Linked DNA regions of Homo sapiens. The protein of the gene in region 2 interacts with the protein of the main gene of each other region in a pairwise test. Each region holds a gene or a part of one and is shown on either strand. Other genes may lie near its edges.

What was found.
Region 1: the proteins of NUP214 (region 2) and NUP42 interact in a two-hybrid assay, tested with the Homo sapiens proteins (one study listed by BioGRID).

The regions. Positions count from the first base shown.
Region 1 is NC_000007.14:23,191,969-23,195,783, forward strand, and holds part of NUP42 (nucleoporin NUP42), read left to right. Parts: intron 1-3,815.
Region 2 is NC_000009.12:131,229,872-131,233,686, reverse strand, and holds part of NUP214 (nuclear pore complex protein Nup214), read right to left. Parts: intron 3,058-3,815; coding exon 2,918-3,057; intron 1,404-2,917; coding exon 1,379-1,403; intron 234-1,378; coding exon 200-233; 3' UTR 1-199. UniProt on the Homo sapiens protein: Part of the nuclear pore complex. Has a critical role in nucleocytoplasmic transport.

The DNA.
Region 1 (3,815 bases), on a different chromosome or scaffold from region 2:
ACAAGTTACAGCTTTTGCTTTAGAAAACTTGGAAAGTACAGAAATATATAAATAAAATAAAAATAACCTGATATCACAGAGGTAACTACTACATTTTAGTATATTTCTTTCGAAACATATACACACACAAACATATTTCTTGTTTATGTATACAATTGACCCTTGAACAACATAAAGTTTAGCGGCACTGATCCTCTGTGCAGTCAAAAATCCACGTATAAGCTTTGACTCCCCAAAAGCTTAACTACTAATAACGTACTGTAAGAGAAAAGAAAATGTTAAGAAAATCATAACGGATCAGGCGCGGTGGCTCACGCCTGTAATCTCGGCACTTTGGGAGGCTGAGGCGGGTGGATCACAAGGTCAGGAGTTCGAGACCAACCTGGCCAATGTGGTGAAACCCCATCTCTACTAAAAATACAAAAAAAATTAGCCGGGCTTGGTGGTGCATGCCTGTAATCCCAACTACTGTGGAGGCTGAGGCAGGAGAATTGCCTGAACCCAGGAGGCCGAGGTTGCAGTAAGCCGAGATGATGCCACTGCACTCCAGCCTGGGCAACAGAGCAAGACTTCATCTCAAAAAAAAAAAAAAAAAGAAAAAGAAAATCATAAGGATAAGAAAATATATTGACCATTCACATAGTGGAAGTGGATCATCATAAAAGTCTTCATCCTTATTGTCTTTATGTTGAGTAGCAGAGGGATAGGTGGGTGTGGTCTTGCTGTCTCAGGAGTGGCAGAGGCGGAAGAAAATCCCTGTACAAGTGGCCCCTGTACAAGTGGACCCTGTACAGCTGTGTGTACAGTTGACCTTTGAACAGAACTGCAAGGGTCCACTTGTACAGGGATGTATAAGTTGTTCTATGTGTGTATATATGTATACCTATGTGTCCGGAATTGGTGGGTTCTTGGTCTCACTGACTTCAAGAATGAAGCCACGGACCCTCGCGGTGAGTGTTACAGTTCTTAAAGACATCGTGTCCGGAGTTTGTTCCTTCTGATGTTCAGATGTGTTCGGAGTTTATTCCTTCTGGTGGGGTCCGTGGTCTCGCTGGCTCAGGAGTGAAGCTGTGGACCTTCGCGGTGAGTGTTACGGCTCTTAAGGCGGCCCGTCTGGAGTTGTTTGTTCCTCCCAGTGGGTTCGTGGTCTCGCTGGCTTCAGGAGTGAGGCTGAAGACCTTCGCGGTGAGTGTTACAGCTCATAAAGGCAATGTGGACCCAAAGAGTGAGCAACAGCAAGATTTATTGCAAACAGCAAAAGAACGAAGCTTCCACAGTGTGGAAGAGGAGCTGAGCGGGTTGCCACTGCTGGCTGGGGCAGCCTGCTTTTATTCTCTTATCTGGCCCCACCCACATCGTGCTGATTGGTTCATTTTACAGAGAGCCAAGTGGTCTGTTTTGACAGGGTGCTGATTGGTGCGTTTACAATCCCTGAGCTAGACACAAAGGTTCTCCAAGTCCCCACTAGATTAGCTAGATACAGAGTGTGGACACAAAGGTTCTCCAAGTCCCAACCAGAGTAGCTAGATACAGTGTTGATTGGTGTATTTACAAACCCTGACCTACACACAGGGTGCTGATTGGTGTGTTTACAAACCTTGAGCTAGACACAGAGTGCTGATTGGTGTATTTACAATCCCCTAGCTAGACATAAAGGTTCTCCAAGTCCCCACCAGACTCAGGAGCCCAGCTGGCCTCACCCAGTGGATTCCACACCAGGGCCACAGGTGGAGCTACCCGCCAGTCCCGCGGTGTGTGCCCACACTCCTCAGCCCTTGGGTGGTCGATGGGACTGGGTGCCGGTGGAGCAGGGGGTGGCGCTCCTCGTGGAGGCTCAGGCTGCTCAGGAGCGCACGGAGGTGAGGGGGAGGCTCAGGCATGGCGGGCTGCAGGTCCCGAGCCCTGCCCCGCAGGGAGGCAGCTAAGACCCGGCAAGAAATCCAGCGCAGCGCCGGTGGGCCGGCACTGCTGAGGACCCAGCACACCCTCCGCAGCCGCTGGCCCGGGTGCTAAGCTTCTCATTGCCCGGCAGGGCCAGCCGGCAGCTCTGAGTGTGGGGCCCACCAAGCCCACGCCCACTCGGAACTCCAGCTGGCCAGCAAGGGCCCTGGGTAGCTCTGGTTGCCACTCGCGCCTCTCCCTCCACACCTCCCTGCAAGCTGAGGGAGCCAGCTCAGGCCTTGGCCAGCCCAGAAAGGGGCTCCCACAGTGCAGCGGTGGGCTGAAGGTCTCCTCAAGTGCCACCAAAGTGGGAGCCCAGGTAGAGGAGGTACCCAGAGCGAGTGAGGAATGTGAGGGCTGCCAGCAAGCTGTCACCTCTCACCTATACATATATACGTATACATATATATGATTAGGATCATAATCTAGTTTTTCTTTGTTTTTTGTTTTGTTTTGTTTTTTTGAGACAGAGTTTCGCTCTTTGTTGCCCAGGCTGGAGTGCAGTGGCGCCATCTCAGCTCACTACAGCCTCGGCTGGCCTTCCGGGTTCAAGCGATTCTCCAGTCTCAGTCTCCCGAGTAGCTCGGATTATAGGCATATGCCACCACGCCGAGCTAATTTTGGTATTTTTAGTAGAAACAGGGTTTCGCCGTGTTGGCCCGGCTGGTCTTGAACTTCTGGCCTCAGGTGATCCACCGGCCTTGGTCTCCCAAAGTGCTGGGACTACAGGCGTGAGCCACCGCGCCCGGCTGTAATCCAGTTTTTTTTGTTTTTGCTTTTGTTTTTGTTTTTGTTTTGAGACGGAGTCTCGCTTTGTTGCCCAGGCTGGAGTGCAGTGGCGCAGTCTTGGCTCACTGCAACCTCTGCCTCCCAAGTTCAAGCAATTCTCCTGCCTCAGCCTCCCGAGTAGCTGGGATTACAGGCTCATGCCACCACACCCGGCTAATTTTTTGTATTTTTAGTAGAGAGGGGGTTTCACCATGTTAGCCAGGATGGTCTCAATTTCCTGACCTCGTGATCCATCCGCCTCAGCCTCCCAAAGTGCTGCAACTACAGGCGTGAGCCACCGTGCCCGGCCCTAGTTTTATATTCTAATTTTTGCTTTCAGTTTGTCTCTGGTACTAAAAATATTAGAATGAACACCCTTATACATAGCAACCTTTGTTTACATATATAACTATTTCCCAAGGTTAAATCCTATAAATTGTATTATAAGTCACAGGATATGAATGTTTTTCAGGCTTGTGATGCTTATTAACAATTATCCCTCCCAGAAAACTTGTACCATTTTAATTCCCTTAACGGTAATTTAGGAAATGATACATTTCACCACATTTGGAACAACAGTAAATACCAGCTTTTAAAATTTCTGCCAGTCTGATAAGTAAAGCATTTTATCTCTATTTTAAGTTGCATTTAACTTTATTTCATTTATTTACTATTTGATTTTTTTTGTGTGTGAATTGCCTGTTCATTATCTTTGCCCAAATTCATTTACTTTTCTCATTTATTTGTAAGAGCTATTTGTACATTAGGGCATTAGTTCTTCTCTTGTCATATATGTTAAAATTGCAATTTTCCTAGTGTACCATTTGCCTTGTAATTTTGCTTAGTATAGTTTCTGGCAGAATTTTTAAAATAAAAGTTTGAATATAAATGTAGTCAAATCTTTCTCCTGTGTTTGTTGTTCATTCTACGCCACTTATCTTTAGAAAATCTTCCCCATTTAAAGATCAGAATAACCAACTATATTTTACTGTAATTTTACACTTTATTAAACATTAAGTAGAGTGTAGGCTTTAAGTTTCTTCCTCATGGTTATGAAAATTTTCTAATCAACATTAGATATTTTCTTGTTTAGCACCTCTAGCTTT
Region 2 (3,815 bases):
TTAATAGTGGGAGGGAAAACCCAACATGAAATATAAAACAAGTAATCATGCGCCTTGTGAGTTTTGGTTTCTGTTGTTTCTTTCTGGGTGTATGTGTTTTGATGGCAACGTCGGTCTGAACAGCCTGCTCCAGCATTTCTCGGGGAAGAAGCTGAGGATGCGGTTGGTCCCAGGGATCGAAAGGCCTGCTGACACGCCCTCAGCTTCGCCAGCCACCAAAACCCTGGACAGACCTGCAAGGAAGCACAGGACAGTGGTGGAGTCAGCTGCTCTGTCACAGAGCAGTCACAGGCTCTGCTGCTCTGCCTGTGTGCAAAGGTCAGGACTCAGATTTTTTATTATTATTTTTTTGATACAGAGTCTCACTCTATTGCCCAGGCTGGAGTGCAGTGGCGTGATCTCAGCTCACTGCAACCTCTGTCTCTCGGGCTCAAGTGCTTCTTTTGCCTCAGCCTCAGTGGCTGGGATTACAGGCATGCACCACCACGCCTGGCTAATTCTTGTGTGTTTATCTATATATGTATATATATATATTTTTAGTAGAGATGGGGTTTCACCATGTTGGCCAGGCTGGTCTCGAACTCCTGACCTCAAATATCTGCCCACCTTGGCCTGCCAAAGTGCTGGGATTACAGGTGTGAGCCACCGTGCTTGGCCAGTATATATATTTTTTTCTTTTGATATAGGGTCTGGCTGTCACCCAGGCTAGACGGTAGTGGTACCATCTTGGCTCACTGCAGCCTCAACCTCCCAGGCTCAAGTGATCCTCCCGCCTCAGCTTCTGGAGTAGCTGGGACCACAGGCATAAGCCAGCATGCACGGCTAATTTTTTTAATTTTTAGTAGAGATGGGGTCTCACTCTGTTGCCCAGGCTGGTCTTGACTCCTGGGCTCAAGCAATCCTCCCACCTCAGCCTCCCAAAGTGCTGGGATTATAGGCGTGAACCACCCACCTGGCTAAGACTGAATTTTAACGCCATGAAATTTTACACAGAAGCACAGAGGGTGGATCAACACATGAGACCTGGTGATGGCCCAGAGCCCAGGGGTTAGCATGCAGCTTCTGAGAAACCTCCAGGGAAGTCAGGAGCAGCATCTCCTCAGCGCTGCCCTCAGGCCCAGCTCACTGGCAGGCGTGCTCTTTTCTCTTTGAACCACGCCTCTTAAGAAGGCGAGGCCTGGCACCTCCTGCCATATTGCTACAGAGAAGAGCAAGTCCACAAAACCCAAACCCTGCTGCTGAACCCCCACACTTCCAGGACAAACTCTAAAAACAGGAAAAAACGAAAAGAAAATGCACAAATCCAGCAAGATCCACACACTTCCAACCTTATTTAATGCTTTTAATTAAGGTGAGACTCAAAAAGGGGGATACTTACGAGTTATTTGACCCAAAGCTGAACCCTGAAAAGCAGAATAAGAGTGAAGTTAAAGCACGCATCCACTCGAAAGACAAAGGTGGTCCCCATGCTAAGTGTCTGCCCTCCTCTGTGCTTCTTGTGGGAAGCCCTCCGTGCCTCCACCACCTACAGGAAGGCAGGAAAGGTACACACAGAAGCCCCTTTATTCTGAGTTTGTCCTCTGGAGCTACTCAGATCCCCCAGAAGGCAGAAAAAATCCTTTACTTTTTATGAGTTATCTTCTTGGTATTTTAGGGTTCTTCCTCCCTCCTCGGCCCCAGCTGTAGGCAGAGGGTCTCTGGCTTGGCCTCTCAGCTGTACTGGACCACATAGATCCATTCATTAGGAAAACCTTTTTTTTTTTTTTTTTTTTTTGCTGTTGTTGTTTTTCCATCCATTTGCTTCCTCTTCTTTTTGGGGGCCAGAGAAGCAAGATGGCTGGATTCTAGGCCTGGTTCTACTGCTAACTGCTAACACTTAGTTCCTTGGAGTTTCTGTTTCTTCACGGGTACAATTGTAATGATACCTAAATTCTGTGCCTTGTCAGTTTACTGCAAGAACAAAATGGAAGACACATATTCTGCCATCTGAAGAAGCAGAGTGTTAAACAAATGCAAGATGTTTTGTGAAGTTTCTATGCCTTTTTTTTTTTTTTTGAGTCTGCTGGCTTAGATTTTTTAAACCAAGGCCTAGTAAGACCATTATTATTTTGGGCTTCTCAAATCCTGAGAGGAAATCAAGACAGTAATTTCTTTGGTAAGAAATGACACAGTGTTCTAAGTCTAACTAAAACCTAAAAAAAAATATATATGCCAGGTGCTGTAATCCCAGCACTCTGGGAGGCCGAGGTGGGTGGATCATGAGGTCAGGAGATGGAGACCATCCTGGCTAACACAGTGAAACCCCATCTCTACTAAAAACACAAAAAATTAGCCGGGCCTGGTGGCGGGCGCCTGTAGACCCAGCTACTCAAAGGCTGAGGCAGGAGAATGGCGTGAACCCGGGAGGCGGAGTTTATAGTGAGCCGAGATTGTGCCACTGCACTCCATCCTGGGCAACAGAGCGAGACTCCGTCTCAAAAATATATATATATATATATGTTTCAACCACTTTCAGTATGTTACATATTTATTTATTTTGAGACAGGGTCTCATTCTGTCACCCAGGCTGGAGTGCAGTGGTGCAATCACAGCTCACTGCAGCGCTCAAGTGATCCTCCTGCTTCAGCCTCCCGAGTAGCTGGGACCACAGGTGTGTGCCACCATGTCTGGCGAATTTTAACATTTTTTGTAGAGAATGGAGTCTTGCCATGTTGCCCAGGCTAGTCTCAAACTCCTGGGCTCAAGTGATCCTCCTGCCTTGGTCTCCCAAAGTGCTGGGATTACAGGCGTGAACCACGTGCCCAGTCAGCTTTTAAAATACTAAACAGACTGGTCAGGTAAAACATACTCATTTCTTTGGGGGAGAAGGCAAGAGGGACCCATTTTGCTTGTGAGGGGAGAACTTGTGGCAGCTTACCTCCTGTGCCTGATCCAAAACCAGAGAATCCGCTACTCTGGGTCCCAAAACCAGAAGTCTGTTGGGACAGTGATCCGAAAGTGGGGGCATTCTGACTCGCGAGCGTGCCGAAGGATGTGGTGTTGCTGCTGCTCCCAAACCTGCGCTCCAGTGAGAAACAGACTGAGGTCAGTGGGGCCTCTCACCACTTGCCCATCTGCAAGCCTCAGCCCCCTGCTGTAAGTCCCAATACACACGACACTCATGATCCAGGGTGACAGGCTGGGCCTAACTAGCAGCCTTTCAGAGAGAATGAGCTATCGCCCAGGGCCAACTTTTATCTCTGCTCTAGGAAGAAAAATGGCAGGACTACAGTATGAAATCCAACCTGGCCAGTGTTTTAGTTTCCATCCCCCATTGGAACACCAGGGCATTTGGGAACTATGCAGTACACAGTTCCTGCTCTACCTCCAACAATCCTTAAGCTTTATTCTATCATTTTAGCATTTCTCACTTACCGACCATTCCCCCACATCCTGCTCCCATTTATTTATCTTCAGCTCCTCTTGGGATCTTGATTCTATTTACTTTTTCCAAGTCATTTCATTCAGGATTTTGTATTTGCTTCCTGAATCAATAATTACTACCCAAACCAATGTAAAAGTGGCCACTATTTTCCTTCCCCTGCTCGCCCCACCTGGAGACAATCCCCTGTGCCCCCTCACTCAGTTCTCCCTCCAGATATGGTCCAGCACACAAGGTGGCACTGTGTGACCTATCAGAGCCCCTTGAATTGTTTGCAGAGGAACTCGGCTGGGTTGGGGAGAGCTTCTGGGGTCTGGAGGTGACTAGGTGAGGGAAACGGATCAGTGGTTTCTGGGAGAAGGGGCAGCACCTGGGGGCAAGAATCAACCCCAAA